Homo sapiens: one gene and its partners. The protein of the gene in region 1 interacts with the protein of each later gene in a biochemical or structural test. Each region holds a gene or a part of one and is shown in the gene's direction. Other genes may lie near its edges. The genes, in order: FCHO1, ITSN1, AGFG1 and DAB2.

What was found.
Region 2: the proteins of FCHO1 (region 1) and ITSN1 form a complex in vitro, tested with the Homo sapiens proteins (one study listed by BioGRID).
Region 3: the proteins of FCHO1 (region 1) and AGFG1 form a complex in vitro, tested with the Homo sapiens proteins (one study listed by BioGRID).
Region 4: the proteins of FCHO1 (region 1) and DAB2 form a complex in vitro, tested with the Homo sapiens proteins (one study listed by BioGRID).

Annotation. Positions count from the first base shown.
Region 1 is NC_000019.10:17,746,742-17,754,476, forward strand, and holds the start of FCHO1 (F-BAR domain only protein 1), read left to right. Parts: upstream 1-4,735; 5' UTR 4,736-4,836; intron 4,837-7,467; exon of another isoform or gene 7,468-7,575; 5' UTR 7,576-7,620; exon of another isoform or gene 7,621-7,725; intron 7,726-7,735. UniProt on the Homo sapiens protein: Functions in an early step of clathrin-mediated endocytosis. Has both a membrane binding/bending activity and the ability to recruit proteins essential to the formation of functional clathrin-coated pits.
Region 2 is NC_000021.9:33,771,480-33,778,504, forward strand, and holds part of ITSN1 (intersectin-1), read left to right. Parts: intron 1-581; coding exon 582-844; intron 845-3,249; coding exon 3,250-3,399; intron 3,400-3,488; coding exon 3,489-3,629; intron 3,630-7,025. UniProt on the Homo sapiens protein: Adapter protein that provides a link between the endocytic membrane traffic and the actin assembly machinery. Acts as a guanine nucleotide exchange factor (GEF) for CDC42, and thereby stimulates actin nucleation mediated by WASL and the ARP2/3 complex.
Region 3 is NC_000002.12:227,475,156-227,482,180, forward strand, and holds part of AGFG1 (arf-GAP domain and FG repeat-containing protein 1), read left to right. Parts: intron 1-7,025. UniProt on the Homo sapiens protein: Required for vesicle docking or fusion during acrosome biogenesis. May play a role in RNA trafficking or localization.
Region 4 is NC_000005.10:39,386,964-39,393,988, reverse strand, and holds part of DAB2 (disabled homolog 2), read left to right. Parts: intron 1-595; coding exon 596-735; intron 736-1,525; coding exon 1,526-1,624; intron 1,625-3,413; coding exon 3,414-3,545; intron 3,546-4,056; coding exon 4,057-4,137; intron 4,138-4,865; coding exon 4,866-4,892; intron 4,893-5,136; coding exon 5,137-5,190; intron 5,191-5,621; coding exon 5,622-5,684; intron 5,685-7,025. UniProt on the Homo sapiens protein: Adapter protein that functions as a clathrin-associated sorting protein (CLASP) required for clathrin-mediated endocytosis of selected cargo proteins.

The DNA of each region.
Region 1 (7,735 bases):
CTGAATCCACGGGATGAAATGCTGGTAATGAAGGGAAGAGAAGATCCTTAGGGCCTCCCAAGCTTCTGGTCTGTGCTCCTGGGCTGCCCTGACTGAGCCTGGGAGGCTGGTGGAGGGGCAAGAAAATCAGCCGGGTGCCCTGTCCCTAAGCAGAGGGTAGGATGGGGGACTGGCGGGTGTTGTGTAAGTTTATATTTTCTTTTTCTTTGTTTTTGTTTGTTTGTTTGTTTGTTTTTTAAGACGAAGTCTCACTCTTGTCGCCCAGGCTGGAGTGCAGTGATGTGATCTCGGCTCACTGCAACCTCCGCCTCTCGGATTCAAGTGATTCTCCTGCCTCGGCCTCCCAAGTAGCTGAGATTACAGGCGCCTGCCACCATGCCCAGCTAATTTTTGTATTTTTAGTAGAGACAGGGTTTCACCATGTTGGTCAGGCTGGTCTCGAACTCCTAACCTCAAGCGATCGAGTTCGAACTCCAAAAAAGAACTATCATATGGCATATGAGGGGATGACCTCCTCTGCAAGGTGCCGGATCCCGGGGCTGCCCTAGGCCGGCTGCAGACTTGCTGTGTGGCCTCCAAGCAAGATCTTGCCCTCTCTGAGCCTCAGATTTCCCATTTGTAAAATAAAGACCAATAATGTCCAGGTTACAGGCTTGTGGGGGGTCATCAACTGAGCCCTGCCTGTTCGCTCAATAAACGTTGGTCGCTCCTTACTCCTTACCACTGAGTCTCAGGGCGAAAGAGTGGCGCCTGTCTCTTTAAATTATGCAAATAGACTGCGGGTGGCGTAAGGGGGGGAACATAAAAAGGAGCCTAGTCTTCGGCTGGACCAATCAGCGCGCTGAGCTGGCGGAGCTGGGCGCCTAAATGGCCCAATGGGGGGCCGCGCGGGATCAGAGCCCGCCCTGCCTCCTGGCGCCGTCGCGGGGGTGGGGACTTTCTAGGCCACGCCCCGGGGGCGGAGCCCGCCGGCAGCCGCGCCGCAGCCGCGGAGGGAGGGGCGGGGCGGGCTCCGGTGTCAGCGACCAAGCCGCAGGTGGCGGCGAGCGCGGGGCTCGGCCCGAGCTCAGGAGGTGAGTGTTGCCCCCCGGAACCCCCTGGGATACCCTGGCCCGCGCAGCCTCCCACGCGCACCGTGCCCTGCAGCCCCGGCGGCTGCGGAGGGCAAAGGCGCGGCGGGACGCGAGGGATGGAGAGCAGGGGGTTGGGGCTACGCGGTGGGCGCCCCGGCTTCCCCCTCCAAGTGGTAATTGGGGGTCCGCAGGCGAAAATGGGGACCGCTCCCCAAATCCCCCGTCTCCTGGCCTAGAACCGAGCGTGCACGGGGGCGGCGACGACGCGAGACCCCTCCCCAAATTCTTTTATTCTAAGCCTAGGTCTGGGTTCTGGGGCTGCAAAGATGGGGGCGCCGCTCCCCTTCCAGCCTGGAACCCTGGGCGGTGGCTGAGATGGGGACCACCCGCAGATTCCCTCTTCCCAGCTCCGGCCTGCAGACCACCGGGGACCGAGACGAGGGACCCCTTCCCTTTTCCTCCACTGTGAACCCCTATCCAGGCCTGGTGGCTGGAGGAGCTGGGGTGTCACCTGGCCCCTCCTCTAATCTGCCCCATCCCAGTCCTCCACCTTAAGGATGGGGTGGGGGGCGTTTCACTGGCATCTTCTGTGGGGACCCCAAGGTTGGAATTTTGGGGAGGAGGTCACTGTGGGGTCCCCTGCCTGGCACGGTTTATCCAGGCCAGGCCTTGAAGGGCCTGGAGCCTGGACTTGGGGGGGGGGTCCCTCTTTTACTGAGGGGCGGGGTGTACAGCTAGCATCTGTTTCTGGGGATTAAAATAAATCGAGGTAAATTAGGATCTTGCCAGAGGCTGGCTGTGAGTGGGGTGCGGAGGAGGCTTGGGGGGTGGGGGACCCCTCCATCTGCCTTGGATCCCCCGAGTCACCTGCCCCAGCTGCACTGGGGACCAGGAGGCAGTGTCGAATGGACCTGCTTCACTGGTGACCTTGGGCAGGTGACAGCACCTTTCTGAACCTCGGTTTCCTCTTTTGAAAATTGAGGTTGGGAGCTTCGGACCCTGCATTTTACAGATTCTGAACTCACCCAGCCCACATTTTGTCCAATGGTGATTCACTCTTTTGCTTAACATGTGGGTGGTTTGGGGTCAAGACAGCATTGGGTTTGGAGACCCTCCCACAGTGCCTTGCTATCCTCTCAGCCTCAGTTTACTGCACTGCAAAATGGGTTGATGATGACACTCTGATATTGGGGCTGAGGGCATGGGGACAGGGAGTAAAACATAGGACCAAGCTGCAATGGCTGGGATGGGGCATCGCCACCCTGGTCTCACCATTGGGGCCACTTAGGGCACACCCTGACCCACATACCATCACCCACGCCAGGGGTGAACCTGTTCTCGGGCGAGGTCCTGGGCAGGAGGGGGTGGGAGTTGCCAGGCCAGCTCATTCCCTGTCCCTTGGAGCGCCCTCCCAGTGGTGGGCATGGGGCTGGGAGTCTGACACCCCCAGGTTTGAATTTGCCTCTACCTGTGTGTGTGTTTTTCCCTTGGTGCCTTTGTTTGTTCTTCTGTGAAATGGGCTGAATTCCTCTGGGAAGATGGGAGGAGTCTGTGGGAGGAGGAAGCTCTGTAAATACAGACATGATTATTATAATATTAATGACAGTATTAGTGCTCTTTAAATCGGGTCACAGCTGACCAGGAGGAGGGAGGGGAAGGGGGAGTCTATCAAAGGCATTGCCTGAGGAGACTCCAGCACCTGGGAAAGTTGGGTACACAGTAGGCATTCAATAGATGTTTGCCAAATGAAGTGAGGAAGAGGGAGGGGACCCATGGGGAGGACAGAAAATTTCTGAGAATCCCTGGCTCAGATTCCCACTTGGTGGCCCGAGTCACTGTGTGACCTGGGGCACGTGTCTCAGTTTCCCCATCGTGGTGCTGGTTGAGATAAGATACTGCCTTGAGGTGTGGTGACGAGAATCAAGCCAGATTGTCTGTGATCGCAGCCCAGGTGGCGAGGCCAAGAGGGGAGACATGACATAGTGGGTCATTGAAACAGCATGGTACCTGCTTGAACCAAGTGACTGGTCCGTGGGAAGGATGAGAAAACCCTTGCTACTGGCCCTACTGTACATACACTGGGGTCCAAGAGAGAGGGAAATGTGAGATCCTGTTTCCCAGGATCCTGGAAGCCAGATCGTGGAAGGTCAGGAGTGGCCCAAGGTCATCAGGCAAGACGTCAGCGGCTCCGGACACCCAGCCAGGCACCACTCGATTCCCAGGATGGGAGCTCGGGTCTTGCCTTTGTTGCTGATGTGGTTCCTGCTTTGTTTTATCTGTTCTGGGGCTGCTCACATGTCTCAGCCCCAGGTTTGCAAGACTTGGTGCCGGGAAGGCAGGATGGGGACCTCTGAGTCAGCTGGCAATGTGCTGTGTAACCTTGGGCAAGTCTCCGGCCATCTCTGGGCTTTGTGCTGGTACTGTACAGGCTGGGAGACTTGGGTTCTAGCAGGGCTGACTTCTCCATCAGACCCAAAATGCCCAGTGTCTCAGGCTCACAGTGCTTTTAGGGGTCCCTAGGTTGATGTTTTCACTTCTTTTAAAATCCAAAGGGAAAAAAATGAACTCTTGGGTTGAAGGAAACATTTTTGTGTATAATATTAATATATTTGTCTTTATGTCAATGTAGTTGTAAAATACAGTTTTGTTTTGTTTTGTTTTTGAGACAGAGTCTCTCTCTGTCACCCAGGCTGGAGTGCAGTGGCTCGATCTCCGCTCACTGCAACCTCCATCTCCTGGGTTCAAGCGATTCTCCTGCCTCAGCCTCCCGAGTAGCTGGGATTACAGGCATATGCCACCCCACCCAGCTAACTTTTGTATTTTTAGTAGAGACGGGGTTTTACCATGTTGCCCAGGCTGTTCTCGCACTCCTGGGCTCAAGCAATCCACCTGCCTCGGCCTCCCAAAGTGCTGGGATTCCAGGCATCAGCCACCACCTAAAATATAATTTTAAATTTCTTTTGTAGTGAAGGAAAGCGCTCATGAATGCAAAAATGTCTTCCCCTTTCTTTTCTTTTTTTTTTTTTTTTGAGATGGAGTCTCGCTCTGTCGCCAGGCTGGAGTGCAGTGGCGCAATCTCGGCTCACTGCAACCTCTGGCTCACTGCAACCTCCACCTCCCGGGTTCAAGTGATTCTCCTGCCTCAGCCTCCTGAGTAGCTGGGACTACAGGCATGGGCCACCACGCCCAGCTAATTTTTGTATTTTTAGTAGAGACGGGGTTTCACCGTGTTGGCCAGGATAGTGTCAACCTCTTGACCTCGTGATCCACCCACCTTGGCCTCTCAAAGTGCTGGGATTACAGGCGTGAGCCACCGCGCCTGGCCATGTCTTCCCCTTTCTGAGCGCATTTCCCTCTCTGAGCCTCAGTTTGCCCAGTCTGTGAAGTGGGTATCGGCCTACCTCAGGATGGCAAGATGTTGAATGCCTGGGCCAGGGTTGGTGCTCAGTTATTTCCCAATTGCCATGATTAATATTTGTTCGGTAAGAACAGCTCCAGGTTCAGGCCGGGGGGCTCCAGGTTCAAGCGCCTCTTGTTTACTCACCCATGGCCTGTGTGGTTCCAGGGAGGTCCCATGGGTGCTGATCGGGCGGGGGAGGAAAGGTGGCGGTTGGATGGTAGGCGGGGCGGGGTGAGCTTCCTGTCCCCCCCCCAACCCATGCACACAAGCCTCCAACTTGGTGCTGACGGAAGTGGCCTCGTGGCTGTCTCCTGGCGCCTGCCCCGTCAGACAGGGGCCCCATCCCACTCGCTACCCTGTCCGGTGAGTTTGAGCCCTGGCCAGTAGATACCCATCATCTCGCCTTGGCCCCCCTCAGGAACAGAGGGGAGGCCCCCCTGCCCGGAGCCTGGGTTTCAGGAGAAGTAGCAGGTGTCACTTCCTGGGCTGGCCAAAGCCTGCATGGGGCCACCCGTTGCCCTGCCCCCCGTCCCCCATTCCAGCTGTGAGTGGTGGTTTGGGTTAGGGGGGCGGCAAGGGGAGCTTGGAAACCCAGAGAGCCACGCGTGATGGTTTCAAACAGGAGGTCATTGGCAGACAGACCAGGGGCAAAATCACAGTCAGCCGGGACCAATGATTGATCTCTCTGTGCCTCGGTTTCCTTCATAAAGTTGGGGTTGCCTCTGAGGGCATGGCATGAAGATTGGATGAGCAGATGCGTGTGAATAGTTGGGTACAGGGTCGCACACATACTGGTGCTCCATGTGTATCTGTCTGCCAGAGGTGGGGTGAGGCAATCTAATTGAAACTGTGAAAACAGTAGTGAGATTCTTGGTTTCTGGGGAACTTGGGCTCCTTGGTTCCTGGGATCTTCTAGAACAATGTTGGCCATCCAATACAGCAGCCATCAGCCCCATGTAGCTACTGAGCCTTGGAAGAGAGGCTGGCACAGCTGAGGAGCTGGGCATATAATTGTATGTATGTATGTATGTATGTATGTATGTATTTAATTATTATTTTTTTAAGACAGAATCTCACTCTTTCAACCAGGTTGGAGTGCAGTGGGGCAATCTTGGCTCACTACAACCTCCGCCTCCCAGGTTCAAGTGATTCTCCTGCCTCATCCTCCCAAGTAGCTGGGACTACAGGTGTGTGCCACCACGCCCTGCTGATTTTTATATTTTTTGGTAGAGATGGGGTTTCACCATGTTGGCCAGGCAGGTCTCGAACTCCTGACCTCAAGTGATCCACCCACCTCGGCCTCCCAAAGTGCTGGGATTACAGGCGTGAGCCACTGCGCCCAGCCAATTGTATTTAATTTTACTTGGTTTAACATTAATACAAAAATTAATACAAAAATTAAGGCCAGGGGTTGTGGCTCATGGCTGTAATCCCAGCACTTTGGGGGTCCCAGGCAGGAGGATGGCTTGAGCTCAGGAGTTCGAGACTGGCCTGGGCCACACTAGTGAGACCTAGTCTCTACAAAAAAAAAAAAAAAAATTTATTTTTAATTAGTTAGACATGTAGTCCCAGCTACTCGGGTGGCTGAGATGGGAGGATCACTTGAGCCTGGGAAGTCGAGGCTGCCATGAGCTGTGATCATGCCACTGCACACTCCAGCCTGGGTGACAGAGCAAGAACCTGTCTCCAGAAAAAATAAAAAAATAAAAAAAACTTAATACAAAAATTATTCAGGCGTGAGCCTGTAGTCTCAGCTACTCGGGAGGCTACTATTCAAGGCTCCCTTGAGCCTGGGAGGTGGAGGCTGCAGTGAGCTATGATCGCACCACTGCACTCCAGCCTGGGCAACAGAGCGAGACCCTGTCTCCAAAAAAAAAAAAAATTAAGTCACCACATGGGGCTAGTGGTTCCCATGCCAGTCAGCACAGCTCTAAGAGATTTGGAGATGCTTAGGGTCCTGGTCATGGACAGAAGCTAAGAAATGATATGGAAATTTAGGGCTTTTCCCCTAGGGATGTCAGTGTAGCATGCTCACCACCCTACCCCTGCCACCAAACTAGGTTTCCTAAGGGGGTGTGGTGGGGACTGAAGTTTTTCAGGGGCCCTGTCATTAACCAGTGCAGGGTTGGGAATGTTTGTTGAAACAAATAATTCCTTGCCCAGTGAACTCCTATTCATGCTTTAAAACCCCAACTCCCATGAGCCCTCCTTTAGTCCAGGTTCTTTTGGACCTTGTCCCTCCATCTGGCCCAGCCCTGACCATGCAGGACGGTGATATCTGTGTCCAGCTCTGTCTCTCTAGACTGGGGACTCCTGCAGGGCCAGGCCCGAGGCTGAATCAACTCAGGGACCCTGACATTGTTCTAGTCTGGGTGAGCAAGTAGGAGGTCTTGGGTGACTCACAGAAGTCCCGGGATTGGAGGCTCAATGATAATGGGTCCAATTAAACTAACTAACTTTCTTTCTTTTTGAGACAGGGTCTTACTCTGTCGCCCAGGCTGGAGTGCAGTGGCGCCATCTCAGCTCACTGCAACCTCCGCCTCCCAGGTTCAAGCGATTCTCCTGTCTCAGCCTCCCAAGTAGCTGGGATTACAGGTGCCCGCCACCACACCTGGCTAATTTTTGTATTTTTAATAGAGACAGGGTTTCACCACTTTGGCCAGGCTGGTCTCAAACTCCTGACCTCAAGTGATCTGCCCGCCTCGGTCCCCCAAAGTGCTGGGATTACAGGCGTGAGCCACCACTTCTAGCCTAAACTAACTTTCAAGATTAGGTAAACTGAGGCACAGAGAGGGGCAGCCTTGCCCAAGGTCTTGCTCAGTCCTTTCCTGGGGAGGCCCCGGGAGCTTCCCCATCCTGTGGTCACGGGTCCCTGTCACTCCTGCCACTGTTCCTACGAGGCTCCCAGCTGCTACCGAGCTGCCTGTGGGGTCATGAATTATGCATGAGGCCTGCAGGCTCCAGTGACAAGCCTGGCCTCTAGAACATGCCAAGGACACTGCCTGTCCGTCCCCTGCCGGGCGGCCTGACCCAGCCTCTTGTGCAGAGACACCTGGGGCTCCCCGGCAAGATCCCTTCTAAGCATTCCTTCTTATTTTGCAGATGGGGAAACTGAGGCACGGAGCTGGACAGTGACTCAGACACCAGGTGAACACTGGCTTTTGAGGGCAGGGTTGGGACTCGTGGGGGCAGCAATGCCAGCTGGGTCATCACAGTGAGGAGTGAGCTCTGACTCCCAGGAGGGTACATAAGGTGAGGACTG
Region 2 (7,025 bases), on another chromosome or scaffold:
GAAAAAAAAGGATAGAACTGAGTAATCATTCTAAATTTATAATTGATGTGTTAAAGAAGGAAACTGAATAATGGGTTAGAAAAAATTGTTGACTGACTGTGATCTCCATAGGGATCAGGGCACAGCTTGTTCTTCAGTGTGAAAAGCCGAATGCTCACCTTTCACTCTGCTTTGAGAAATCTTGTTAGAATAGAGGACTCATCAGCACGGTTACAAGGCAAAGGGAAGGAGGGAGAGAGACAGAGACTCATGGTCCAGAAGAGAGGGGGTTAATTCCTAGGGCAAGCTCATGGGAAGAAGGGAAAGGATGGAGTAACAGGGAAGGAAAGGAGTCTGGATGGTGATGTAGAACTGCTAGATAAGGATCTTTTAGAAACAGTGTTTGGCGTGGAGGAGAAGATATAAACAGAGAGGTTAGGCAAAGGGGGTTTTCGTTGTGCTCATTAACAAGGACACAGAAGCTTAGGGAGTTCTGGGTTTGGGTTTGTACTACAAATTTCAAATACATTGGTGAGTTTTCCTTTGAAAAGAGTCCGTTGAAAATCTTGAGTTTTCATAGTTGCTGTGTTCCTTGTCTGAAGTAACGTTTGAAGATAAGAAGCGGGAGAACTTTGAACGTGGCAACCTGGAACTGGAGAAACGAAGGCAAGCTCTCCTGGAACAGCAGCGCAAGGAGCAGGAGCGCCTGGCCCAGCTGGAGCGGGCGGAGCAGGAGAGGAAGGAGCGTGAGCGCCAGGAGCAAGAGCGCAAAAGACAACTGGAACTGGAGAAGCAACTGGAAAAGCAGCGGGAGCTAGAACGGCAGAGAGAGGAGGAGAGGAGGAAAGAAATTGAGAGGCGAGAGGTAAGCAGGCGAGAGTGGAGCCACCCGGAGTTAGTGTGCGATCACCCCTTTTCAGAATTATCCAAGTGATCTATTCACGCCATCTTTGTCTTTTTACAATTCAGTAGTTTTAGTATATTCCCAAAGTTGTGCAACCATCGTCCCTAATTCCAGAACATTTTCATCACTCCAGCTCTTTACCCATTAAGCAGCTACTCCCCATTTCTTTCTCCCTCCAGCTCCTATCATTAATTTTACTTTCTATCTTTCTAGATTTACTTATTCAGGACATTTTTTATAAATGGAATCATCAATATATGGACTTTTGTTTCTGGCTTTCATTTAGCATAATGTTTTCAAGGTTCATCCACATTGTAAAATGAATCAGTCCTTTATTCCTGTTTATGGCTGAGTAATATTTCGTTATATGGGTATACCACATTTTTTAATTCATTCAGCAGTTGATGGTCATTGTGGCTATTATAAACAATGATGTTATGAACATTAATGTACAAGTTTTTGATGATACAATTTTGTAACAAACCACTGATACCAGTAAAGTGTTTTTCCAGACTGTTTTCTCTGTATACACCTATATAAAAATATAAAGGTTTATATGGCGGAGAGTGTAAGGGCTGTATAATTTTTTAAAAACCACTGTAATAGTATCATACCAATTACATTGTTCTGCAATCTTCTTTTTTTTTTTTTTTTTTGTTTGAGACAGAGTCTCGCTCTGTCACTTCCAGGCTGGAATGCAGTGGCATGATCTCAGCTCACTGCAACCTCTGCCTCCTGGGTTCAAGCGATTCTCCTGCCTCAGTCTCCTGAGTAGCTGGGATTACAGGTGCCCGCCACCACGCCCAGCTAATATTTTGTATTTTTAGTAGAGATGAGGTTTCACCATGTTGGTCAGGCTGATCTCGAGCTCCTGACCTCGGGTGATCCACCCGCCTCAGCCTCCCAAAGTGCTGGGATTACAGGCATGAGCCACCGCGCCTGGCCCATGCAACCTTCTTTTTAAACTCTTTTAAAAATATGTCTGGGACATCCTCCCTATATTCTATGGAAGGCTTCGTAAATTTAGCGCCATACCTGGAAAGGGGCTAAGCAAATCTTGTCTCTCTTTCCAATTTTAGTACATTACTGCAGAAGCAACACATGGTTCTTTCATGTGAATGAAAGATAAAAATGAGGAATTTTTCGATGTAAAAAAATAGCCTGAGTGCTGTGCCTCAAGCCTGTAATCCCAGCACTTTGGGAGGCTAAGGAGGGATGATCACTTGAGGCCAGTAGTTGGAGGCCACTGCATTCCAGCCTAGGTGACAGAGCAAGAACCTGTCTCAAAAAAAGAAAGAAACAAAACTTATAGCCATAACTCCTTTTTTTTTTTTTGAGACAGACTCTCGCTCTGTTGCCCAGGCTGGAGTGCAGTGGCACGATCTCAGTTCACTGCAGCCTTCACCTCCTGGGTTCAAGTGATTCACCTGCCTCAGCCTCCGGAGTAGCTGGGATTACAGGCGTGAGCCACCATGCCTGGCTGATTTTTGTATTTTTAGTAGAGACAGGGTTTCGCCATGTTGCCCAGGCTGGTCTCGAACTCCTGACCTCAGGTGATCCGCCTGCCTCGGCCTACCAAAGTGCTAGGATTACAAGCGTGAGCCACTGCGCCCGGCCCCGTAACTCCTTTTTGTTCAGACAGACACTAACAAAATTTTAATTTTCAGAATGAACAAAGATAGGCAAACTTTTCTTCAACGTACCAAAAAAATGATATTCTAGAGTATTTATTCAGAATTATTTAATAGACATTTACCATGTATCAGGTGTAGTTGGATGACCCATGAGTCAGAGGCAATTCCCATAGACTGTCAGATGCTCTGATATGTACTCTATCTAGCAGTCGTCAGAGCCAGTCGTTGGAGGGAGCAAAAGCTTTTGTGGTAAAAAGGAAATGAATGATTAGGAAGTGGGGAGTCGCAGACTTTTAAAACGAGTTAAGTAATAATTTCTCTTTTGGTGGAGTAAAATCAACTCTTGTTTGTTTTTGTTCAGGGGTGTTTTAGTTTGATTTTACTACATAAATTTTCCTTCTTGGCGTGTCAGTAAATAAGAAGGAGCATTTTTAGTTAGCACATCAAGCATTCTTGAAGGCATAAAGAATGGAATTCTAATGGGGAAATAATCCTGTCATCTTACGTAAATATAGTATTATGTAAATATAATACCCAGTTCTGTGTATTCCCTTTATTCCCATAGAAGGAATACTGTATTTTTATGTAATTTTTTGTTTTCTAATGTGATTTCTTGTAATGTTTAATATTTCATCCCTAAAAGGAAAGACTTCCTAGATGCCATTTTTGTGAAAAGACATTGTGTAGTGTAAGAACTGAAAAATTAGTAATTTGTCTCTGTAAATGTCACAGGCTGCAAAACGGGAACTTGAAAGGCAACGACAACTTGAGTGGGAACGGAATCGAAGGCAAGAACTACTAAATCAAAGAAACAAAGAACAAGAGGACATAGTTGTACTGAAAGCAAAGAAAAAGACTTTGGAATTTGAATTAGAAGCTCTAGTGAGTGAAGTTTGGTTATACTTTGAAAATATACTAAGATGGAACCATTAAAAACAGTAATAATTTTTATTATCTTTCATTTGTTCAAGAATGATAAAAAGCATCAACTAGAAGGGAAACTTCAAGATATCAGATGTCGATTGACCACCCAAAGGCAAGAAATTGAGAGCACAAACAAATCTAGAGAGTTGAGAATTGCCGAAATCACCCATCTACAGCAACAATTACAGGTGAGGAAATATGCCTCTTAAAAGCTATTATATTAAACTGGCATCCTTTTCTCTAATTCATTTCATTTACTTACTTATTCAGTAAACATTAAGCAACTGTCTTGTACTAGGCACTGGGAAGCAAAAATGAAGTAGACAGGGTCCTTGTGTGAAAAGTAGCCTGTCAAGGAGACAAACTCAGCAAATATTTACTGAGCACTGCTTCGGGCCAGGTGCTTTTGCAGTTTCTGAGGCTACAGCAGGGACAGACACTCTGTCTTCTGGGAGCTTACCCTCTGTTTGCAGGAGGAACAGAGACTAACAAAATAAAGTGTGTACTGTATTAGAAGATGAAAAGTGCTATGGAGAGTGAGTAGGGAAGGGAATAGAGAGTCCTAGGGATAGGAAATGTTGTGATTTTAACTAAGGTAGCCAAGACAGGTCTTTCTGGATGGTGACATTTGAGCAGAGACTTGAAATTAATGACAGGCTAAGCCATGTGGGTATCTGGCAGAGCAAGATCTAGGCAGGGAAATAGTGCCAAAGTCCTGAGGTCGTAGCAGGACTCTGAGATGCCAGTTACAGCAAGGAGACTACTGGGTAGAGCAGGTGGGAGCTGGATCACACAGAACCTGTAGTCCACCAACAGGACTTTGGCTTTACTGTGGTAATTACAATAAATAAGTACACTTAAGTATTTTAGGGGGTCATATGAGAGCTATATGTATACTAAATAGTTGGAGACATACAGAGCACTTTTAGTAGTTCTGTCTTCATTTTAAAGCCTATCCAAAGTTGTTATAATATCACCTGGTTTGGTATCAAGTGCTGAACTACAGGGGCATCAAATTCATGTAAATATTGCCTGTGGATGATCATATTTGCCTGTGATTCCTTTATGTTAGGCTTTTTCTCAGCATGATGTTTTTGAGATGTGTCCATGTTACTGAGTGAATGACTCTTTTGTTTCTTTTCATCACTGAGTAGTGTTTCCTTATGTGTCCATTCACCTACTGGTTGATATTCAGGTTCTTTCCAGTGTGGAACTTTTATGAATAAAACTGCAGTGAGCATTTATGTACAAGTCTTTATGTGGAAATGGTTTATTTCTCTTGGGTAAACTTTTAGGAATGGAACTACTGTGTCATGTAAGTGTATATTTAACCCCATAAGAAACTGTCAGGCTGGGCACAGTGGGTCACACCTGTAAACCCAATACTTTGAGAGGGCAAGGTAAGAGGATTGCTTGAGCTCAGGAGTTTGAGACCAGCCTGGGAAACATAGCAAGACCCCATCTCTAAAAAAAAAAAAAAAAAACTTAAAAATTAGCTGGCATGGGGGCGTTCACCTGTAGTACCTGCCTGAGGCAGGAAGACCACTTGAGCCCACGATATCGAGGCTGCAGTGAGCTATGATTGAGCCACTGACTGCCTGGGCCACAGAATGAGACCCTGTTCAAAAAAAAAAAAAAAAAGAGAGAGAAAAGAGAAAGGAAAGAAAGAGAACTGACAAACTGCAAAGAGTTTGTACCATTTTACATTCTGATCATTTAATTTGTATTTCCCTGAAGGCTAATGATGTTGGGAATCATCTTACATGTTTATTGGCGAGTATTTTTTACTGTGCATCTTCGTTGAAGTGTCTGAACAAATCTTTTGCCCATTTTTTATTGGGCTGTTTGTCTTACTATTTACTTGTAAAAGTTCTTTTTATATTCTTAACAAGTCCTTTGTCAGATACGTGTTTTGCAAATATTTTCTCCCAATCTGGCTTGGGTTTAATTTTTGTTAGTGGTATTTTTTAAAGGGCAGAAGTTTTAAATTTTGATGAAGTTCAGTTTACCGTTTTTTTTCTTTTGGTGTTCATGCTTTTTATGTTCTATCTGAGAAATCTTTGACTACCCCATGACTGCAAATATTTTATTTTCTTCTAGAAGTTTTTGGGGCTTAAAAAAATAATTTTTACAAGTTTTTATAAATTGAAAAAAACTTAAAATTTTAAGTTTCATAGTTGTATCTTATATGTTTAGGTCTATGAGCTATTTCAAGTTGATTTTTGCAGATAGTATAAGGTAAAGGTTGAGGTTTATATTTTTACATACTGATACACAGTTGTTATAGCACCATTTATTAAAAACACTGGCTTTTTTCCCATTGAGTTACCTTGGTAGCTTGTTGAAAATCAGTTGAACATATTTGTAATGGTCTATTCTGGACTCTATTCTGTTCTTTTGATCTGTCTGTCCTTTACCAGTACCTCACCCTGTTGATACCTAATTTTTGAAGTCAAGTGATACGAATTCTCTGTTATTGTTCTTTTTAGAATTGTTTTTGGTTATTCCAGGTCCTTAACATTTCCATGTACATTTTAGAATCAGCTTATCAGTTTTTACAAAAATGCTTGGAATTTTGTTGGAATTCCATTGAATTTATAAATCAATTTGGGAAGATTTGACATCTCAGCAATAGTAAATCTATGGCATAAATCTCTATTTTGGTAGTTATAAATTTCTCTCAGCAATGTTTTGTAGTTTGCAGTGTCCAAGTCTTGTAGATACTTTGTAAAGTTTATCCCTAAGTATTTTGTGGCTTTTGATGCTATTGTATATTGCATATTTTTATTTTAGTTTCCAGTTGTTTGGTGCCAGTATATGGAAATAGAATTTATTTTTGTATATTGACCTTATATCTGTGATTGCTTAACTAACTTCCTTTGTGTGTCTTACTTTGTTGACCAGAACCTCCCATACTATATTGGATAGAAGTGGGAAGAGCCTTGTTCCCTCTCGATGAAGGAAAGCTCTCTCACCATAGAGTATAGTGTTAACCAGGGTTCTTGTAAACACCTTTTATCAGGTTGATGGACTTCTCCTTTTGCTGAGGGTTTTTATGATGAATGGGTGTTGAAATAGATCATATGTTTTTTCCCCGCATCTATTGAGATAAGTATGTGTTTTTTCTTTCTTATTTTGTTAATATGATGAAGTACATGGTTGCCATTTGAATGTTAAATCAGCCTTCCATTCTTGGGATAAACCACTCTTGGTCATGGTATATTACCCTTTATTAAAATATTTCACTACATTCCATTTCCCATTATTTTATTAAGGATCTTTTTAAATCTGTTGAATTCAATTCAACAGAGATATTGGTTTTTAGTGTTCTTCTAATATTCTTGTCTAGTTTTGATATCAGGGTAATGCTGGCCTCAGAAAATGAGTTGGAAAATATTCCTTCCTCCTCTATTTTCTAAAAGTGTTTGTGTTGAAATAGCATTTCTTCTTTAAATTTTGGTGGCATTCACCAGTGAAGGCCTCTGGGCCTGGAGCTTTCTTGAAGACTTAATTATAAAATTCATTATGCAGATATAGGGCTATTCTGATTTTCTTCTTCTCCTTGAATCTGTTTTGATTATCTG
Region 3 (7,025 bases), on another chromosome or scaffold:
ATATGAAGGGTTTATTGATTGATTTTAAAGTAAAACTATACAGTGGCTTAATAATATTGCCTAGATTTTCCTCATTCGAGCATGGTTGTCCCCAGCTCCTGGGTATACTGCCTTAATTATGTCGTTGGTCCAATACTTTCAGAAGTTCTGCATTTCCCTCTGATTGGGTTAGCTTAGATCATGCCACAACTGGACACATGTTCTAACCTGACTTCATTGTCACAAGGATCCCCAAATAGAGTTCCCAAATCTGAAATCTAGAATTCTTGGGATGTAGGGAATGAAGACTAGAGTGGCAACCATCAAATGTCTACTGCAGAACGTTGGAGGGACAATAGCTTCTGAAGATTTTTTTCTTTGACAAGCAATAGTGCAGGAAAATAATTTAGGAAGAATAATATAACTCTTGGGTTTAATAATTATGTATCTGATGTTTAGATGACATGGTATAATTGAAAGAATATGAATTTTGAAGTCAGATTTTGACAATGCTACTAGCTTCGTGGCTTAGGGCAAGGTGTTATGCTAGGCCACTACATGCAGATTGGCCCAGATCCATCCTTGTAGCCTCAGTTTCTTTATTTATGTTAAGAAGATATCATATAGCTCAGGGTTGTTAAGAGGATTCAATGATACACATCGTTACTGTATTTACTTATTGAGCACATACCGTATTTGAGGATAGGGCTAAGCACTGGAGTTACAAATATTGAAATAAGGCATGCTAGCTGCCGTTCCTTGATTTACCTGGAAAATATGAATACATAGCAAATAGTATCCACTATCATGAATTCTAAATTTTAGGATAGTGACATACCTTCTATCATTTATACTAATACCTTTTTTTAAAATAAATTGAACTAGCATCTTGTTGTTAATGTTACTAGACTTGGAGCTAATCTTTCTTGTTTCTTTTTTTTCAGATGACTGTCCTATATGCTTGAATGATGTTCATTCAGAGTGTAACTGAATTTAGATTGTAAAACTTTAAAATGAACTTCAGAGTTAGATGCAGTTAAACTATTTGTTACTGAGGCAGAATGATGAAGGCATCCTAACTGATTGGTTTGTCACTATCTTTCACTGTCTTTCTGGTTGTATTTATGGAAATCCCTAAAATTCTGAATGGACACTTCAGACATTTAAAATATAGCCAACAGTAAAAATGGCCTTCATGTTAAATAACTTCTAGTTGATTTAAAGACTAGTTTTAGACTAAATTATTTGTTTTATGGAGACTATAAACATTAGTATAATTGATATGTAATATAAAAGATTGTCCTAGCCTTAAAAAGTGATCCATAAATTTTTCAGTGAGGGTTTAGATAAAATAAAAAATAACATTTGAGAAAGAGGTTGCCACTTTAATACCATCTATTTTATGTGGACAGTGCATTTAAGCTTGAAATTTCACAGGTAATAAATGTAGCTGGATAGTAACTTATATTCTGTTGATTCTGTGTACATTGACTCTTGAGATGAATGTTACAAGAATTTTAATTTTTTTTAGATGACAGATGAAAAGAGGTATTTAATGTTTTTATACAATTAGTAGCATTAGGATGGATTGCAAATCAGATGCTCTTTTGGAGCTCTGTGTATAATATTCAGGACCTTGTGAGGTCACAGTGAGCAGGGATTTATATTCTTAATTCCTTTTTTACTTTTTTTGGATACTCTGATATGGCCACATTCAGTTAAGTATTTAGAGTAAGTGGCCAAAATATTTTATACTTTCTCTCTCTCTCTTTTTTTTTTTTTTTTGAGACATAGTCTCACTCCGTCACCCAGGCTGGAGTGCAGTGGTACGATCACGGCTCACTGCAACCTCTGTCTCCCGGGTTCAAGCCATTCTCCTGCCTCAGCCTCCCAAGTAGCTGGGATTACAGGCGCCCGCCACCATGCCCGGCTAGTTTTTGTATTTATAGTAGAGACTGGGTTTCGCCATGTTGGCCAGGCTCGTCTTAAACTCCTGACCTCAGGTGATCCACCGCCTTGGCCTCTCAAAGTGCTGGAATTACAGGCATGAGCCACCTCGCCTGGCCTAGATACTTTTTCAATTGTGAAGGACAAATTTTTTATTTTAAGCAAATATTTATTAAGTGCCAGATACTAGCCCATGTGCTGGAGATACAACAGTTAAAGTATTTATTGAAAAAAAAGAAAAAACTATTGAGTGCTAGCTGTGTGACAGACATTCTAGTAACAGTGATGTGAGGAAGGTACTATTATCCAAGCTCAACTTTAAGTTGTAAAATTAGTGCACACTCTTAGTGTTTTGCTGTTATAACCTGCTAGAAGTTGGGATCTGGAACTGATGCTGATTCCACCACCAAAGAATGTATGGTTACCATGGTTACCGTAAATTGTTGTGAATTCTATATTTTGGGGATTTAAATGGTAGATTTTACTTCATTGTGTTTCAAATGGCAGAAAAAAGACTTTTTCTTTTTTTTGTTTTTATTTTTTGAGACGGAGTTTCACTCGTCACCCAGGCTGGAGTGCAGTGGTGCGATCTCACCTCACTGCAACCTCCACCTCCCAGGTTCAAGCGACTCTCCTGCCTCAGCCTCCCAAGCAGCTGGGATTACAGGCATGCACCACCATGCCTGGCTAAATTTTTTTTGTATTTTTAGTAGAGATGGGGTTTCACCATGTTGGCCAGGCTGGTCTTGAACTTCTGACCTCAGGTGATCCACCTACCTCGGCCTCCCAAAGTGCTTGGATTACAAGCATGAGCCACCATGCCCAGCCCAGAATAGATATTTTATGATGCATCATAAATGTTTGTTTTATGGCTGTGTCATGCTTTTTATTATTTTTAGGGAACTTCTTAGCTCCAAAATGTGTGTTCTTATTTTTGAGTTTCATTGAGAAAATACTGTTGTGTATTCTGAAATCAATGGGAATGATGGTGCCGTTCCAACAGCGATTCTTTTCAATTTGGCATGTGCATACTACCATGTGCCGTAATTCTCGTGCTATTTTTTATATTTGAATTCTAATTAGAACCCCTCATTGTATGCAGTCAAGTTTGATAGTGGATAAGTTTATCAAAAAATTCAGTTAAAGCAAGCAATCAGTAAAAAAAAAAAAATACATACATGCACACATACATATACATGTATCTATTATATATACATATATAATATATATATTTAGCAAGCATAGGTTTTTTTGTTTGTTTGGGTTTTGTTGTTGGTTTGAGACAGGGTCTCACTCTGTCGCCCAGGCTGGAGTGCAGTGGCATTATCATGGTTCACTGCAGCCTTGACCTCCCCAGGCTTAGGTGATCCTCCGACCTCAGCTTCCCAGGTACCTGGGACTACAGGCGCGTGCCACCATGCCCAGCTAATTTTTGTAGAGATGGGGTTTCGCCATGTTGCCCAGGCTGATCTCCAACTCCTGGCTCAAGCAATCCTCCTACCTTGGTCTTCCAAATTGTGGGGATTACAGGCGTGAATTACCATGCCCTGCCTCAAGCTTAGGTTTTTAAATTTTAACATACAACTGTTAATTTGCTGGCACATAAGGCTTTGAATATGGGTCCACTGATTAGATTCTTTGTCCCCTAATATAACCCAGACTCATGCTGTACTATTTATGATTTTTAGCATTTTAATGTACTTATAAAACAGTTTGAATGCTGAATTCTTCTAGATTTTTATGATTTTTCTCTCAGTCTTTTACAGTTCTTTTCCATGGTCAAATAACAGCTTATCCTAGTGACTTGTTTTAGTCTCTAAAAATACTTAGTTTACATGGAAATAATTCTTCTCACTCATGCCATTGTTTTACATGACATTCACTTAAACTATATACTTACCAAGTACTGTACCAACTATATTACCAAATACTATACCAGACAAATTTTGATAAGCATAAAACTCACTCTCTCCTGAGAGAGGAGCAGGAGAAAGTGGCCTTCTAGCCATGAATGTTCATTGTGCAGTAGGCATTAACTTTAGGTTTCTCAGAGGGAAGGAGAAACATAGATTTAACCAGCAAATTGGATAAGAAGGACTCTTCTGTATAGTGCTGTGGGTACCTTTTATACTGGGAAAACTCCAGCATTCAGGTTGTGGTGACATCATTTGACCATAACTGAGTATAAAGGCATTATTGCCATGTTAAGCCTTTTTCTGTTCCCTATTCATTCATCCATCATTTTTGGCATGTGATTTTTAAACACTGGCTTTTAGTTTCAAAGTGGATAAAATACAGTTTAGATTAAATTTACATTAAATTTTATAATATTAGTGCATTATAAATGAAAAGAATTAAGACATTGTTTTAAAAGAACTTGCCGACCTCTGGATCTCAATTTGAAAATCATTGTCTTTTTAGAAACCTCTGTATCTGTTCCAATAGCATTCTTTGGAAAACAGGCAAATCTCCTTATTTGATATTTTCCTTCTTTTCTGTGCAGCGTGCATGATGTTCACATTTGTGAGAAACTCCTATGGAAATATTCGGGACTAGGTTTTACTACTCCCCCTCATTTTTTCCCCCACTTGAATGTGTTTTCTAATTCAAATCAAAGTGATGATTGTCTAGGGAAATACAACTTGGATACCTTTAATGTATGTAAAAACGTTTTAAAATCAGTTATAACTTTGAGTACTTACATTAATAGCATGTTCCTTGTGACATTTTTTACAACCTTACACACGAGAACTATTGCTAAAGACACCTGATTGAACATTAGAATGAAATTCATGAGCTATTCAGTGGGGACAGGAAACTTATTTGAGTTGTTTGAAATACAGAGAATTAATTTTTGTTTGTGTTAGAACATACTTTGCTCAAAGACTTCTGACTAAGATAGCAATCTTTTTGATTGACACCATACATGTTTTGTAGAGGTCATAATTATACCTTACTTTTATTCTGGTTGCTTGTTTTAAGAGGAATGTTAACAAACTGGAGCATGCTCCAAGGAATCTGATCAAGATGGTAAGGAAGTTTGAAACTATGTATTAGAGGAACATTTGCAGGAACCAAAAATGCTACTAGCTTAAAGAAGAAAAGATTAGACAGTGGGGGAGCTGTACACATGATCACTGTCATTGGGTAATTTAAGGCATTGGGAGAGGTAATACATTTATTTTTACGACTCTAGGGGGAGATGCAACACCAGTGTTTGTAAGTTATGGAGAAACAGTGTATGTTCAGAAAAGGAAAGAGGAATTTTCCTTGTAATTGTCAGATTCCAAAAATTCTTGTCTTTCCATATTTCTTATTTTATTTTATTTTATTTTTGAGATGGAGTCTCACTCCATCTCCCAGGCTGGAGTGCAGTGGCGCCAACTCAGCTCACTACAACTTTCATCTGTCAGGTTCAGGTGATTCTCCTGCCTCAGCCTCCCTGGTAGCTGGGATTACAGGCATGAGCTGCAATGAACTTCCTTCAATATGATCAGATGCATCAGCTACTTTTTTTTTTTTTTTAACTGTTTCTGGGTACTTTTATAATCTTCTGCTCTGGAAATGCTGCTGTCTAGGCCTGCTGTGCGGCTCTCATACCAGAACTTTTCTTCTATCTTCATTCTGGAAATTCCCTTCACTTGTAACCTATGTTAGATGCTCTGTTTCCAGGACCCCCAACATTTCCGTTAGCCTCCTGATGAAAGGTGAATGAGAGGTCATTTTTGAAAGCCACAAAGCTGAAAATGTTTTATTCTGCCTTCTTTTTAAAAATTAGTTTGCCTACATTCACAAAGGTGAAAATACTTTACCCTTGGAACTTTCAATATATTGCTTAGTTGTCTTCAAACCTTCAGTGTTGCTGTTGAGAAGTCTGATGCTATTCTTATTACTGAGTCTTTCTGACCCACTTCTTTTCTTCCCTCTTTTGGAGTATGTAAGATCTTCTTTTCTTCCTGCTGTTCAGAACCTCATATTGAAGTATTTTGGTGTAGGTCTTTTGTTCAGTGTTTTAGGCTTTTTTTTTTTTTTTTTTTTTTTTGAATTTGTTTGGAAACTCACGCTTTTTATAGTGCAGACATATTTTCTCCAATCTTCTTTTTTGGGGAATATAAAAGCCTGTGATGCCACTGTTCTGGGAACCAAGTTGAGGGAGGTGACTGTCATTCTGTGTGTTTGATCTTAGATAATCCTCCAGCTTTCCACATGGTCCCTAACAAGAGTCTTCAGCAGTGTCTTGAGTTTGAAGTCTCTGTGGTATAACCTCTTTAAAACTTTCCTTCAGACTTCCCACCTAGGGCTGGTGGGAGTATGCTTTTGGCTGTTAAGGAACTGGAGAGTCTAATGATTTCTGACCCCACTTTAAGCCCTCACCTGTATCCAGTTCCTTCAGTAAATCTTGATATGTCCTGTGGTGGGAATCAGTTTCCAGTTGGCTTCTCCCACCTTTGCAGAAGCTTCTGTTTTGGCTTTCTCCATAAAGTCACTTACTGCTGGTATTTTGTTTTTAAATCTTCCAAATTTTGTTATTCAAGAACTGTCGTGTGCTTTTGGACTCTTCTCTTGTTCTCTGACGCTCTGTTTATTTTAATTTTTGTGGGCACATAGTAGGTGTATGTATTTATGAGGTACACAAGATAGGAGTTTTGATACAGGCATGCAGTATGAGATAAACACATCATGGTAACCCTCTGTCTCTTGTGGGTTAATACCTTCTTATTCCTTTACTGTCATTTCGTTGTGGGTTTGGGCATGTGAAGAGATTTAGATTTTGTCCACTACTTTTTTTTTTTTTTTTTTTTTTGAGACAGAGTCTCGCTGTTGCCCAGGTTGGAGTGCAGGGGCGCGATCTCTGCTCACTGCAAGCTCTGCCTCCCGGGTTCACGCCATTTTCCTGCCTCAGCCTCCCACGTAGCTGGGACTACAGGCGCCCGCCACCTTGCCCCGCTAATTTTTTGTATTTTTAGTAAAGACGGGGTTTCACCATGTCAGCCAGGATGGTCTCGATCTCCTGACCTCGTGATCTGCCCGCTTCGGCCTCCCAAAGTGCTGAGATTACAGGCGTGAGCCACCGCACCCAGCCTTGTCCACTACTTTTA
Region 4 (7,025 bases), on another chromosome or scaffold:
GCATCTTGTTCAGTTAATAATGCAGTCGTTAATTATTATATGGTTATCATTCAGTTATTTATTTACCATTTGATTTTACTGAACTCATTGGGAATGGGACTACACAGACCTTGTAAAAGGAGCAAAAGACATTATAAAGATGGGATAATTATCTTAATAATTTTCAAGAGAACTTAGGCATAATTCCTTTCTGCCTTATTGATAATTTAAAATGTTGGTAAATTGCTTGGCAGCTTATTTTTCTTACATTAAAAATACATATATTATCATCCTTATATTCCTTTAAAGACTTAAAAAAAACTATGATGAAAAATGTCCCCAACTCCCACCTCCCATATTCCCATACGTTTCCCATAACGCTGTCAATTTTGTACTTCTAACAGTTTATTTTCTCCCCACCTCAACTCCATACACAGTTGATTGTGGAACATGATTTTGCTCAAAGGAAGTAAGAATAAGACAGGACAGAATATTACATACATGATCAGTTGTAGTATAATCAGGATTTATATTACTTAAATTTTGGAGAGTCTAGAGCATATTTGGTCATAATTAGAACTAGCATTCTTCATCCTGTATTCCTTTCTTTTCTCAGGCCCTGAAAAGACAGATGAATATCTCTTAGCAAGGTTCAAAGGCGATGGTGTAAAATATAAGGCCAAGCTGATTGGCATTGATGATGTGCCAGATGCAAGAGGGGATAAAATGAGCCAAGACTCTATGATGAAACTAAAGGTAAAAGGGAAATGAATGCTTTATCTGTATATTAAGCAAAAGTCCAAGAGAGGGAATTATATTAGAAGCTCTTGTTGACCTATTGTTCAATTACTTGAAAACTGCTTTTAATCACATTATCCATCAGTAGTGCCCCATTTTCTGAGAAACCGTGAGTGTTTGCATATTTGGAGGGATGTCCTAGATACCTAATTTTATCAAGTATAATAGGACTCTAGATGCCTTTTCCTTCTGGCAAGCTCAACATTAGGACGAACCAAGCGTATTCCTATTTCTATTCCTATAAAAGCTGTGTGCAAATATTTGCATTGCTTGTCTTACTATATGTGGAGAGCACGGAATATCCTGTTTTAGACCTGGGAATTGTTCTGATAAAATTGAGGATTCTACTTAGACATTGGTGTTCCTTAGCGCTAGCCTTTCTGTTTTTTGAATTTAAAAATTTAGTACTATGGCACTATGTGAAACTGACTGAATAAATAATACTTGTTCAATAGTTCAAGGCCTAGAAGAAACATCTCTAAAGATCTTCTAGTTGAGCTTTACCAGTGACTATTCTGAGGCCAAGAGAATTAGAGTGACTTGTCCGAGTTCGCACAGCTAACTAAGGGATGCCCTGGTTCAACGTCTTCTATGCCGTCTTGCTGTCCCGGATGAAAAGTGCCGAATCCTCTCATCGATGGCAGATCAAGTCGAAAACAAAGCTGACTGACTTTGAAAATTTTAATATTAAAACCATTGTAGGATGTTTTTAAAAATTCAACTTCTCTTGTTTTTCCACCCTCATCAGGGAATGGCGGCAGCTGGTCGGTCTCAGGGACAACACAAACAAAGGATCTGGGTCAACATTTCCCTTTCTGGGATAAAAATAATTGATGAGAAAACTGGGGTAAGAATTCACATTTGCTGATACCTCTCTGACCACCTGAGTCTGACCAACAATTTGCTACTTGAATTTCGGCTCCCCTTCTTCGTTCTCAAAGTTCTGTGGGGAACAAATATATCATATATTACATCTCCAGAAGTAACAGGCAGAAAACAGAATAGGAGGTAAAAGTCAAGATACTTGATTTTGAATTTGTGTTCTATAATAAATGTGAATCTAAGTCTGTTAAGTCTGTTAATAGGCTTAGATTCACATTATGTCTATAATATATAAATATATATATTTTTGAAATTAAATAAATATATATAATTTATATAATATACAAATATACATTAAAATATAAATACATATATAATTTATAAAGTAAAACTTCTATATATATATATTTTTTTTTTTTTTTTTGACCTCGGGTATACAGAACTAGATTAATTTTAACCCCTAGTTTGTGACACTTTTATGTATTGCTTACATGTGAACTTACCGGCTAACCTAAAGCTAGAACCTCACCCATAACACATCTACCTCTTTTTCATTTCTTTTTTCCCTGCCTTCTCACCTCACAGATGTAACCTTGTTTTTGTTGGTTCCTGTTGTTCTATTACTTGTGAACAGTCTTACTTATTTTGCCTTGTTTTTAAGCCTTATCAGAAAGCTATTTATCATACATCAAGTCTTCTGTGATTTTTTTTCTGTACTCAATGTAACATCATAAGACTCATGTTTTTTAAAATGTTGTGTGTGGCTCATTTTCATTGCTATAAAATACTCTCTCGCATCACGATACTGTGAGGAGACCTCCAGTTACTATTCATCCCTTTCTAGAGTGCCCATTATCTACCATGCAAACCTAGGGCCCTGGCACCCTAGTGGACCCCACTCAGCCTGCTAGTGCTGGGGTCCTCAGGCACCACTCTCTTTATCAGTCGCCTTTATCTGTCAACTCTTATTTTCCCAAGCCCATCAGAGAAAGGTGGCATGTTTCTCTCACCCTTCTGTGTCTCCTCAAACTTTCTAAGATACTCTAAGATATCTTAGACATTCAGGACAAAAAGCCAAGACACACTCTGCCACCTACAAATATCCCTAAAGAGTTCAACCTTGTTAACTGCTTGAAAGGATCAAGAAAAAGGAGGGAAAAATAGAAGAAAAGACACTAAGCCAATACAGTCCCCACCCCTTATAATTCCTGGTTACTGATGTAGTCATTATGTCATTAACATACTGTAGTTATTACTACATTATGTTACTATGTATTAGGCTGTCTAGGTGAGGCTGAGAAACACTTGATGACAGTATTTGGTATCCTCCAGAATATACTGGGAATACGGTTCCAATAACACATAGGATGGTTCCTCGGCCACTCTGAGCCATCGTCAATGAATCCCTGTGAACACTCCTCTAGCTTAGTTATGCTGTTCTTTTAAGTTTGTCTTTGAGTTGGGAAAGTAGACCTATTTGGCTTGGCTTAAGGGCTAAATGTCTCCTCTTCACTTGGTCTTCTAATCCTCAGTCCTTCCTGGCTATGTGGCATCATGTCTTTAAAGCAGGGAGAGTAAAGTATCAATATTTTAAGAAGGAACATTCTTCCCACTTACGTTTTCTATTCTTCTTTCTTTTGAGCCCTTTCTAGAAAGAGTAATGCTCTAGCCTTCAACCAGAAATGAAAAGTCTATCTTCAAATGGTTTAAACTTTTCATATATGCCTTCATATATGTGTCTGAGGCTTCGGTGTGCTAGCCTGCAAATAGATTCTAGTTTTCTTAATAAATTACTCTTTATGTTCTTTTTTAAGGTAATAGAGCATGAACATCCAGTAAATAAGATTTCTTTCATTGCCCGTGATGTGACAGACAACCGGGCATTTGGTTACGTGTGTGGAGGAGAAGGCCAGCATCAGTTTTTTGCCATAAAAACCGGGCAACAGGTGAGCTCTAAGTCTTGACATAGACCTGGGGACTTGTCCTCTGTGGACATTGGAGTGTCTGTCACTCAACTAAAAGATTTACTGGAAATAATTGGATGTAAGAGGGCTAAATAATAATTCCGAGAATGACTATTTTTATTGGCCTATGGAATCTTTTAAAAATGTCATTGATAGCTATGCACTGCTGTGTGCCACAGGATTGTGAGAATGGACCTTCTTATAAAGTGAATACTGACTTCACAACAGTGGTGAATTATTCTCAGGAACCTTAAAGGACTTCAAATATGATCATGATACCTCTTGTTTTGTCTAAATACTTATTAACCCTGCTGTCTTTTATATACCTAAGGGTGAGGATTGGGTTGGTGGTGATCCCCTATAAGCCAGCAGAGGGTAGTAAGGCGTTTTAAGATTAAAAAAAAAATCCCAGTATGAATTATAATTGATAGCAGACAAAGGAAATAAAATACTAAAATTAAAATACGGATAACAGTGCTTTCCCTTACTGCAGGCTGAACCATTAGTTGTTGATCTTAAAGACCTTTTTCAAGTTATCTATAATGTAAAGAAAAAGGAAGAAGAAAAGAAAAAGGCAAGTACTACCTGATTAAGGCTCTATTAAATTTAAAACTGGCTGGGCATGGTGGCTCACACCTATAATCCCAGCACTTCGGGAGGCAGAGGTGGGTGGATCACCTGAGGTCAGGAGTTCGAGACCAGCCTGGCCAACATGGCGAAACCTCATCACTACTAAAACTACAAAAATTAGCCAGGGGTGGTGGTGGGCACCTGTAATCCCAGCTACTTGGGCGTCTGAAGCAAGGAGAATCACTTGAACCCGGGAGGCAGAGGTTGCAGTCAGCCGAGATGGTGCCACTGCACTCCAGCCTGGGCGACAGAACGAGACTCTGTCTCAAACAAACAAACTTAAAACTGTACTCAGGACTATGTTTAATATTATATATAAATATGGTCTATCTGAAAATTTGGCTTCTATATGTATTGTCTATTCTTCCCAATAGGGCAATGGATACATTTTTATGGTTAGGCACTTCTAATCTGCACTCCCTGGCTTTTATTTTTTTTCTCTCTATGAGATTCATATTAATTCTAGGAAATATACAGGACAACCAAGTTTAAATCCAGTAACTCTACTCAAACCTTATATTGATATGAAAAGGGGAGGGGAACGGAGGGCAGAAATAATATACAAGACTTATTCTTGCCTTATGCCTGTGAACCATAGGCATACTTGTTTGTGTATTTAACTCCCTTTCACTATGAATATGAAGATCACTGAATATGTATCTTTCTTTTTAGATAGAGGAAGCCAGCAAAGCAGTTGAGGTAAAATTGCATCTTTACTTCTTGTTAATCATGTGTGTGACATGCGTAAGCCCCTGTTTTCTACCTGCCCAACCACTCTCGCCACCTCGCTTATTACTATGTGTTTATGACTTCTCTGATCATGAAAGATGTTTAGTTAAAAGATGATACCAAAACCATTGCTGCTTAGCAGACTAATAGAGTGGACAAATACATTTTATAGACAAAGCTCAACTAAATCCTTAAATATTTGCTATCTTTTCAGAATGGGAGTGAGGCCCTAATGATTCTAGATGACCAAACTAACAAACTGAAATCGGTATGTATTAATATGTGACGTTTGACAGTTCTTACTTATCTGAACATGGGTTCTACTTCCTGTAGATGTTGCTGATACCAAATCTGTATTGAATCTATATGAAAATCCAATTGAGACAACTGTTTTTCAAAATATTAGTGTAACATCTATGTCAATATACAAAAGTAGTCAAAAAAAGATTAGAAAAGTAATCTTTTTAGTAGCCACACCTGAATCTAATCTAATACTTTTTAAGGATGTGGACAAGATAGATTTGCTTTGAGACATGTCTACACTTCCTGACCTAAACAGCTTAATATGAAATCTATTAGTTAAATGGAAATTAAATTGTGACAGCTACTTTCCTAAACTTTAGGAAACAAATGATTACAATATACGAAGTAATCTTTTTTAGTAGACACATCTGAATCTAATCCAAATACTTTTTTAAGGGTGTTGACCAGATGGATTTGTTTGGGGACATGTCTACACCTCCTGACCTAAATAGTCCAACAGTAAGTGTTTGTTTTTAAATTTGCAATGTAATAAAATGACATCTATAACTCAAATTGGCAATAACCAGAAATCTTAAGCATCTCATTGAAACTTGGAAGGTGACTGTTGATTTTTGCAAATGAAGTGTCAATGGTTTTTAGAATAAATGTGAATCTTAAGTCACCATGGGAACCTATCCACACTAATTCAGTTATATTAATATTGCTTACAGATTAAACCTGAACAATAAGTCAGCAATGTAGTCCTTCTTGGTATCACTTAGGATTAGAAGGAGGAGGTGAATAATAGTCCTTGAATAAGCCTACTTGAAGAAAGTATGACTGTTAGATGGTTAATCATAAAGCCTCCTGGCCTCTTCATTTCTTTTGCATTCTGTCTGTTGCAATTTAGCAGCATAAATTTGGTGTGAAGTAAGATTTAAAACAAACAAGTGGCTCAGTTATATTCCACCAAAGCTTGTCCTTGTTAGAAAGCTGCCCATTCTCATAGGATTTTATACCATATCCAGTCTGCTCAATATTGAATGATCTGTAACAACCCTGTAAGAACAGAACAGTATTTTCCTTTATAAATTAAAAAAAAATGGTGGTTCAGGGAAAAAAAAGAAGAAAAAAAAATAAAAAGGAAAGAGGTCCAGATTCAAGACTTAGGCCCAAGTCTTCAGACCTTCCAAAACATACCTCTAATGAAAATGTCCATGACATTTTGAATGACTTCTTGCAACTTCTTTTATTTATGTAACAGTTTCCTGAGCACCTGCTATTTGCAAGGCATAGCAGTAAGATGCACAACATCAATGACATCATGGAATTTACTCTCCGGCAGGGAGACCAACATTAAAACTAATCACATCGTTAGTAATTGATGTTACTACAGGGTATTTATCTAGTTCAGATTCAGGTAATGCTTCTGCAGGAGTGAGTTTCTAGATTTGAACATAAAAGATGAGAAGGCAATAAACAGACAAAAAGAGAATTAGTCTAGAATAATGGGGGGAAATGTCTAGAAAGGACTCTCTTGTATCAGGAAATTATCATGGAAGCCTATGTGACCAAGGTTACAGGAGTTGAAGCAATGGATCAAAGATTGGATAAAATTCTCCCTTCAGACTTCTGCAGAGAATTTGAGGCCTGTGAATCCTTACTGCATAAAACTTTCAGGTCAAATGAGATGGAGAGGAGCAGGGACTTCATGCATTCTTCTCTGACCCTAACCATATGAGTATCACAATGCATGGTAGCATTCTAAAATGCCTTTAAGAGAGAAGCCTGTTTAATATTCATTTTAGCAGTGAGCCCTAACTCACTTGCCTATAGAACCTTTCATTCTTCATAATTTTT